2 linked regions of the Homo sapiens genome follow. The protein of the gene in region 1 purifies or fractionates together with the protein of each later gene. This does not show direct contact. Each region holds a gene or a part of one and is shown in the gene's direction. Other genes may lie near its edges.

The links.
Region 2: the proteins of BOD1L2 (region 1) and BPGM purify together in Homo sapiens (affinity purification with mass spectrometry; one large-scale study listed by BioGRID and IntAct). This does not show direct contact.

What each region holds. Positions count from the first base shown.
Region 1 is NC_000018.10:57,145,751-57,149,886, forward strand, and holds the start of BOD1L2 (biorientation of chromosomes in cell division protein 1-like 2), read left to right. Parts: upstream 1-1,336; 5' UTR 1,337-1,562; coding exon 1,563-2,081; 3' UTR 2,082-4,136. UniProt on the Homo sapiens protein: May play a role in proper chromosome biorientation through the detection or correction of syntelic attachments in mitotic spindles.
Region 2 is NC_000007.14:134,645,478-134,649,652, forward strand, and holds the start of BPGM (bisphosphoglycerate mutase), read left to right. Parts: upstream 1-1,375; 5' UTR 1,376-1,460; intron 1,461-1,657; exon of another isoform or gene 1,658-1,782; intron 1,783-4,175. UniProt on the Homo sapiens protein: Plays a major role in regulating hemoglobin oxygen affinity by controlling the levels of its allosteric effector 2,3-bisphosphoglycerate (2,3-BPG). Also exhibits mutase (EC 5.4.2.11) activity.

The sequences.
Region 1 (4,136 bases):
AACAACAGCCACAGCAAACATTTATTGAGTGTTAGACTGGGCCAGGCACGTGGAGAGCTCCATAAAGCTTAGCACAGGGCCACATCGACTAGTCCCTCAATAAATATTGATTAATTTAAAAAAATACAGAACTGAATTGTCGAGCTGATCATGGGGATGGTGAGGAGCATAGGTAGGGGGTTGCTGTGGTGAAGTCTTGGTAGGTTCACTGTCTCCTGTGGGATGAGATTCAGAATACGTCCATCTGAGGCATCTGTACTTGTATGTCAGAAGCTATGGGGTGAGGTTATTGACAGAGTCTGTTGTGTAAACTTTCTTTGTGAAATATACTACCTTTAAGCTATGTTACGGCTTATAGAACAATGTGGTGTCTACATCTCAGGGGCATTTTAATTCAGGGAAGTGAGTGTTGGGGTGAAATCAGGGATCTGCTTTTCTTTTGAAATATTGATAGAAGGTTCTTTCTGTGCACCTGCACTTCTCTATTGGATGGCGCTGGATGTGGTTGCCTTTTGTGGCTCTTGGTTGCAATACAGTTCTCTTGTTGAAATGACCTCCTTCTGACTGACACATCTGCCCTAGGCTCATCAATGGCTACCAAAGCCAATGGACACCTTGTGGAACATAGTGTGGCATTTCACCCATGGCCTTCATGAAATGTACCTTTTGCGGTCTATGATCCAAGGCTTTTGTAGTTTTCCCTCCATCTTTTTAGTGTTGTTCTCAGTCCCCCTCATGGGCTCTCCAGGTGTTCCTCTATCTCTTCTAAGTTCTCCATTGTAATTGCCACCTATAGTCTCTACCTTCAGTGAGTTAGATGTCTCTCCCCAGCCCCTAGTCCTTGTATCTTTGGACTTCATAGGCAGATGTCTGCATCTGAATAACCCATACCCATCTTAAACTAGTAAATAAAAATGGAATGCACGATCATGTCTCTGTCTCCCATCCTCACCTCTATACCTGTTCTCCATTTAGTAAATGGCACCTCCATGCACCTGCCCAAGTGAGAAGCCTGGGGGTCATCCTTGACCCTCTCCTTTCCCTCGTCCCTCACCCCGTTGTTCTCCAATCCCTGGGATGAGTCTATCTCCTAAATATCTCTTGTATCCCTGTTACCTTCTTCACCTGCCAGGCCACGAAGATCATTCACTCCTCGCCATCTCCTTCTTAGGGCACTGAAATGGTTGCTGAAATTGTCTCCCTGTTTCGCCCTTGCCCACTGGCATTTGTTTCCCACCTCCCTCTTAGAGATCTTTTAAGAAATGCAGATTACGGTTCCCGCCTCACAATGCAAAGGTCAACGGTGACGCCATCTGGAGCGCGCTTGGAATCCAGCAGGCGGTTGCTGCCGCGTCTTCCACAACCTCCGCGGTCTGGAGCTGGCCTCCCCCACCGCCGCCCCAACCACCGGCCCCGCCGCCATCACCACCACCGTCACCTCCGCCGCTGCCTCCTTGGGGCCCTCCTCCTTCACCGCCCCCTTAGCCACCTCTACACATTCTAGGCTTTCTGTCCTGGAGAAGAAGCTATAATCGGTTTCCTTGTGGGCCCGGTGCGCAGCCATGGCGGACGGTGGCGGCGGCGGCAGCGGCGGTGCGGGCCCGGCCTCGACCCGGGCCAGCGGGGGCGGCGGCCCCATCAACCCGGCCTCGTTGCCCCCTGGCGACCCTCAGCTCATCGCTATCATCGTGGGGCAGCTCAAGAGCAGGGGCCTTTTTGACAGCTTCCGCCGGGACTGCAAGGCTGACGTGGACACCAAGCCAGCTTACCAAAACCTGAGCCAGAAAGCGGATAATTTTGTGTCGACACATCTGGACAAGCAGGAATGGAATCCTCCAGCAAACGACAACCAACTGCACGATGGTCTGAGGCAGAGTGTGGTTCAGTCAGGGAGGTCAGAAGCTGGAGTGGACAGGATTAGTTCTCAGGTGGTGGATCCAAAACTAAACCACATCTTCAGGCCACAAATAGAACAAATAATTCATGAATTCCTGGTGGCCCAGAAAGAAGCAGCTGTGCCAGCACTCCCTCCAGAGCCAGAAGGCCAGGACCCTCCAGCTCCGTCTCAGGACACTTCCTAAGAATATGCCTGACAGCTTTTGAAAGCGCTATTTAATTTTTGGTGAAGAAATGGATTCGGTTACATAAGAGTGCAGTTTCAGATTGAAGATAAGCCAAGTTCATCACTGAGCTCAAGATTTCCACCTCGACCATGAGCAGTGACCAGATTGAAAGGGAAGCAAGTTCGCCAGAGAGAAAGTTGACCGTGGCACCCTCCTGCATTGCGCTGCCATTTGGCCAGCCTTTCCAAGGGCATGACACCAAACACACACTACAGAGAGGGAAACACTACCGCGACCCAGGATTGTCCTGAAACAGACATCTATACTTGAACATGGAGACTGCACATGGATTTTAGGGTTTGTGCTCTGAGATAAACGAAAGCTACAGCGAGAGAACATAACCAATCCCAAAGACAATTTCAAAGAACAATGACAGTAAAGGTTAACTGGGAGGAATATTTGACAGTACTTATTTGATATTGTCTCTCAGAGTTGCAAACTAGATTGTACACAACATTAGTGTCAGATAGCTTTGAAGTTGTGACCTTCTTGTACATGAATCTTCTAGCCAGTTTCCTTTCCTTTGTAAGAGATAACAAAGCATGAAACCCTAGAATGAGTGAGAAGTTCAGACATTAGGTATAAGGAAACTCATTTGCAGACTCTCTGTCCAAGAATGCTTCCTGTCTTGCAGGGGCTAGTGAGTCTTGGGTGTGTTTATGTTATGCTCACATTTGTGTTTTATTTGAAAAGTGGATGGTCAATAAATGGCTTATCTTTCAACTGCAACAACAAAAAAGAAATGCAGATTTACATCCTTTTCCTCTTTAAGCTCCGTCAGTTTTCTGATATTTCTAGAAGGTCAGACACCTGGCATGGTTTATGAGGCCCGTGATAATGGGGCCCCTGGTCACCTCTGCTGCCCCGTACACTGTCATTTCTCATATGACAACCATGCCCATGACTATCCTGGACACCCTGTGTTCCCTCTGCTCACTGTGAAGGGAATGCCCTCAACCACTCCTACCCTCCTTTAAGACTCAGCTCCTGAGGAGCCACACATCGTCTAAGCAGGAGTGACAGACTCCTTCCTCTGTGCTCCCATAGATCTCATAAGGGATGACCACACTTACTATAGTAGCTAGGTCTGACGAAGCACTTGCTCTATTGCTCTACAGCTGGCAGTGTACTAAACGCTTAACTTCGCTTACCGTAGTAAGTCCTCATGATCTAATTGAAGAAATCGTATCTTTATTCCCATTTTTATTCCCATTTATAAATGTAGAAACCAAAGCTCAGACACTGCCTAAGTGGTGGGGCTGGGGCTGAGCCTGTATTGAGCACAGAGCCCTCACTTTTAACCCTTTTAACCATGCTTTTAGCCACACCACCTCACCACAGTGAACTGTCTTTGCTTACAGATCTGTCATCCCCACTTAAATGTGAGCTTCCTCCAGGGCAGGGATTTGCTTTGTTCATTTCTTTTCCTTAACCCCAGGACCTAGCACATCACAGGAGCTCAGCAATTTGTAGAAAGAAACCAGTTCTGGATTTGTCTTTTCCAACATTTAATTTCTCAGATGGCAGTATTTATCATCTAAAAAGTGAACAAAAATTAATTTTGCATCTAGTGTCTACATGTCTAAGCAAGAAAGAGCTTTCTTATCCCTGGAGGTATTTTATCTGTAATGTTTACCTATGAGCTATTTTAAATGATTCTTCAAAATTTAGAGTCCAGAAGGTAGAAGACCATGTCCTTTCTGAAAATGTCCCTTCCTTTCCCAGGTACCAGGCTCTTTTTAAAATTAGCTTCTGAATATGAACAACCCAGCTCTTTAAAGTTTAATGTCCCAGCCATTTTAATTGTTTCTTTCGAAGTACAAAAGAGCAGCTGGGCCACATCGGCACTAATCACTTGCCAACTTTCCTTTTTACAAAAACAGCTAAGCTCTTTCTGAGATTTAAAATCACTCCATCTGAGACCCCAGCTTGGCACCTATCTTTGCACTAACATAAAAGGAACCTAATTTCTGCTTTTAAGAAATGTGTTGCGGAAGTGATTTTTGGTTTGGG
Region 2 (4,175 bases), on another chromosome or scaffold:
TTATTACACTGTAGAAGAAAAGCTTTCTCCTTACTTTGTCCTCAACTGATATTGAGAAAAAAGCAAGAGGGCAAATGTATAAGATTTGGAAGCTGCCCCTTCCAGCTGTTCTGGCCTGAACTCTAGTTAATCTTGTGCAAGTTAAATTCTAACTATCACTAGGTGAGACCTATCACCTGCTGGGACCTGTCAAGCCTCGGATTAGTGCCGTCCCGGAAGTAAAGTTCTGTTGATATCCCAGGAGGAACTGTCATGCTCTAACATGGATAAATGAGATACAGAACTGGCTACGATTAGGTCTTAATGAGTTCAATAAAGAGTGTGTCACAGAATTTCAAATGTGGAAAGATTATCTTTTCAACTGTATGTATAATTTATTCTGAGGACTTGCTTGCGTGTCACAAACCTAATGCATTTGTTAGGAGGATGAAACAGGAAAAACTCACAGGAGGACACGAAACACTACTTAGGATAGCTTCTAAGAAGGGAATCTCCCATAACATTCCTTATCTTTCCCGCCCACCCAAGAGTTCTGACACATATGCTTCAAAACCTCGTGTGGTAGTTCAAGCCTGCTTAGAAGCTTTTAAGGCCTCGTGCCAGGTTTCCGGTGTTTTCATAGATTTCTCTTGTTCAGTTATTGTCGCCTCCAAATTTGTCATTCTCTCATTCCACTCTAGCCTCCCTTCCTCTGTGCAATAAGCTTTTAGGGCATTCCATTAATCACTTTTCTTCCCCACCTAAAATACTGTCAGCAAACTGCCTAGGGGAATCCCTATAAAAGCGGTAAGAGAAAGTAAGGTTGCGTTACTGCCTATAAATTGGGCACTTTAAAGGCATTTGTTTTAATCACGACTTAAGACTTTCAACCACGAGTAATTTGTGCGAAAGGAGCTTCTTCTGGGAGGATACCTCGGCTTCGTCTTCAGGTTTCAATCCCTAAATTTCCCATAAGTAAAAGAAACATCACCTCCTCTCTTCCAAGAGTCCGCTGACACCTGTCTTCACCCGCAGGTGTTTCTTTTAAGACGTTAAACGCTTTCTAGAACCTCAAACAGCTAAGATGCTCCCCGCACCCGAGGTTTTGCACCAGCGACGCTCTAGGGTGTGTTTTTCTACTTCCCTAGGCCCAAGCCTGCCCGCTGGCGTCGAAGCCAACTCCTTACTGGTTCAGGTATGTGCTCGTCTCTAGAGTAAACCAATCAGAGCCCCACTTCTTACTCCTGGGATTTGGTAAACGGAAGAGACCTCTCCTGTTCCGGGAGTAGGCCGGGACCGTGGATGAGTGACAGTTCGACTTTCCAATAGGCAGAGCCCTAGGACCTGCCCACGTCTGGTTCAGGGGCTAGAAAAGAGCGTCGATGCCGGCGGCAGTGATGAGTCCTAGGAGGCGCTGGCTCTTTGGCGGCTCGGAGGAGCGGCTGCTGCTGCTGCTGCTGCTGCTGGTGGCCCCTTTGCAGGTGAGTGGCTTTGTTTTAGAAAATGTTGCGAACGTTTACATTTTTTAGTGATGTGATGTTTTATTTTTGGGTGCGGGGAAGGCCAGTTTCTTTACTTCCCCCGGTTTAGTCGTTGGTGGGAGTCTGGTGCCCACTCCAGCCCTCAAGCTGGGACCCTCACTTATCGCCCCGGTCCCTTTCCCTTGTCCCTATCTCAGAATGAGCCTCGCAGGCAGTCACCGTTCTGTCAACTGAGAGGAGGAGCCCGCTTTGGTAGTGCTGTCCTTATGGCAAGAATATATAGAAGTTGGAGGGAAGATAAACTCTCTTCTGGATGTCTGAGGTACTGTGTAGCAGAGCCCTTCCAATAGTAAGATCCCCTGGAAGGAAGCAGGGCGATGCCGCTGTATTTAGGGTTCTGGCAGACCTGGCCCTATCTATCATTTTGTGTAGTAGACAGAAAAACTCGAATGCGGTGAAAAGAGAAGGAGGTGAATATATGCAGTGTTTTCATGTAGGAATCTGGAGCCAAATCACAAGTTCTTAGAACCACTAGAAATAAAAACGTAAGTGTATTTTCCTCTTTTCTAAGGGACGAGCTGGTATTACACTAGAGAAGGTCAATGAAATGCATAATTGCAGTTAAGTTCACAGTTAAGCTTTAAAGAATAGTTGGTTGTTAGCTAACTTATAACTCTCATCCCCCTACTGCCTCCCTTGCAAATTACGGAAGATCTTTAGCTTGTGAGTGGTACTAGAATGTTAGCTGACTAAATGCAGACTCTTTCCAAGAAGGGGAAAAATCAAAAGCTAAGTTTCACCTGTAGGTACTAAAGGTTTTTTAATAGTGAAAGCAGAACTCATGTCAATTTGTCTTTTATTTTTTATTTTTTTTGAAACGGAGTCTCGCTCTGTCGCCCAGGCTGGAGCGACTGCAGTGGCTCGATCTCGGTTCACTGCAACCTCCGCCTACCGGGTTCAAGTGATTCTCCTGCCTCAGCCTCCCAAGTAGCTGGGATTACAAGCATAGGCCACCACGCCTGGCTGATTTTTGTATTTTTAGTAGAGACGGGGTTTCACCATGTTGGCCAGGGTGGTCTTGAACTCCTGACCTCAGGTGATCTGCCTGCCTCGGCCTCCCAAAGTGCTGGGATTACAGGCGTGAGCCACCGTGCCTGGCCTTGTCTTTTTTCTTTCTTTCTTTCTTTTGTTTTGGTTTTTTTTTTGTTTTGTTTTCAGACGGAGTTTCGCTTCTGTTGCCCAGGCTGGAGTGCAATGGCGCGATATTGGCTCACCGCAACCTCCGCCTCCTGGATTCAATCGATTCTCCTGCCTCAGCCTCCCGAGTAGCTGGGATTACAGGCATGCGCCCCCACGCCCAGCTAATTTTGTGTTTTTAGTAGAGACAGGATTTCACCATGTTGGCCAGGCTGGTCTCGAATTCCTGACCTCAGGTGATCTGCCTGCCTCGGCCTCCCAAAGTGCTGGGATTACAGGTGTGAGCTACCGCGCCCGGCCTTCTTTTTTTTTGAACTGCCTCCCGTGAGTCCAGGGAATAGCTCTTTCTTAGCCATCTTTGTATTCCAGTAGCACCTCATACACCGCAGATGCTCCCCAGTTGGTGGTGGACTTCAGAGAAGCATAATTCAAACAGTGTCATAGTGGAAGGAGCTCTGAGTTAGAAATCAAGAACATTGGCTTTAGTCCTGAAACTGTTACTATTTGTGTGATCTTAAACAAATCATTTCAACTGTGACTCTTAATTTTTGCATTTTTTTTTTGAGACAGGGTCTCGCTCTGTTGCCCAGGCTGGAGGGCAGTGGCGCAATCTCTGCTCACTGCAACCTCCACCTCTGCCTCCTGGGCTCAAGCGATCCTACCATCTCGATTTTTGCATCTTTAGAAAGCAGATGTTGCATTAAATTATATCTGAGATATAAACTCTGTATTTAAAGTCTGTTTTAAAGTAAAAATTATTAGTATACAAGCAGAATCTCATTGCAGTAAATTCTGTACCATCTATTAGCAAGTAAAAGTTCCCAGCTTCAAGGATATATTCTTGTTTTTTAATTTTTAATTTTTGTGGGTACCTAGTAGGTGTATATATTTATGGGTTACATGAGATATTTTGACATAGGCATGCAATGCATAATCACATCAGAGTACATAGGGTAGCTGTCACCAAAAGCATTTATCCTTTATGTTTCAAACAATCCAATTGTACTCTTTTAGTTATTTGAAAATTTACAATTAAATTGTTTTTTTTTTTACTATAGTCACCCTGTTGTGCTAGCAAATACTAGGTCTTATTGATCTTCCTATTTTTGTCCCCATTACAAGGATATACTCTTTTGTGTTCCTATTTAAACCAAACCAGATTATTGTAGAAAATTTGGAGCATACCGAAGTATAATGTGGCAGAAAAATGTCACTTAGAAGCAACTACTGTTAGTGTTTGGGTAGAGCTTTTAGTCTTTCTTCCTCTTTTGCCTGCTGTGGTTGGTTGAGATTAAGAGGCACATTTTAAGTAATGATTGATGCACCTAAATTCACCTGGCCTTCATCTTTGTGTGTCTGGGGCCTGAAGAACAGAGGTCACAAACGTGTTTGAACCGAATGGTTTCTTGAAACATCCTTGGAATGAAATCTGATATGAAAGATGTTTATATGGGTGGCAGGACAAAAAGTATTACTTAATAACAAAACCCTTCTGCTGAAACTTAGCCACAAATATGA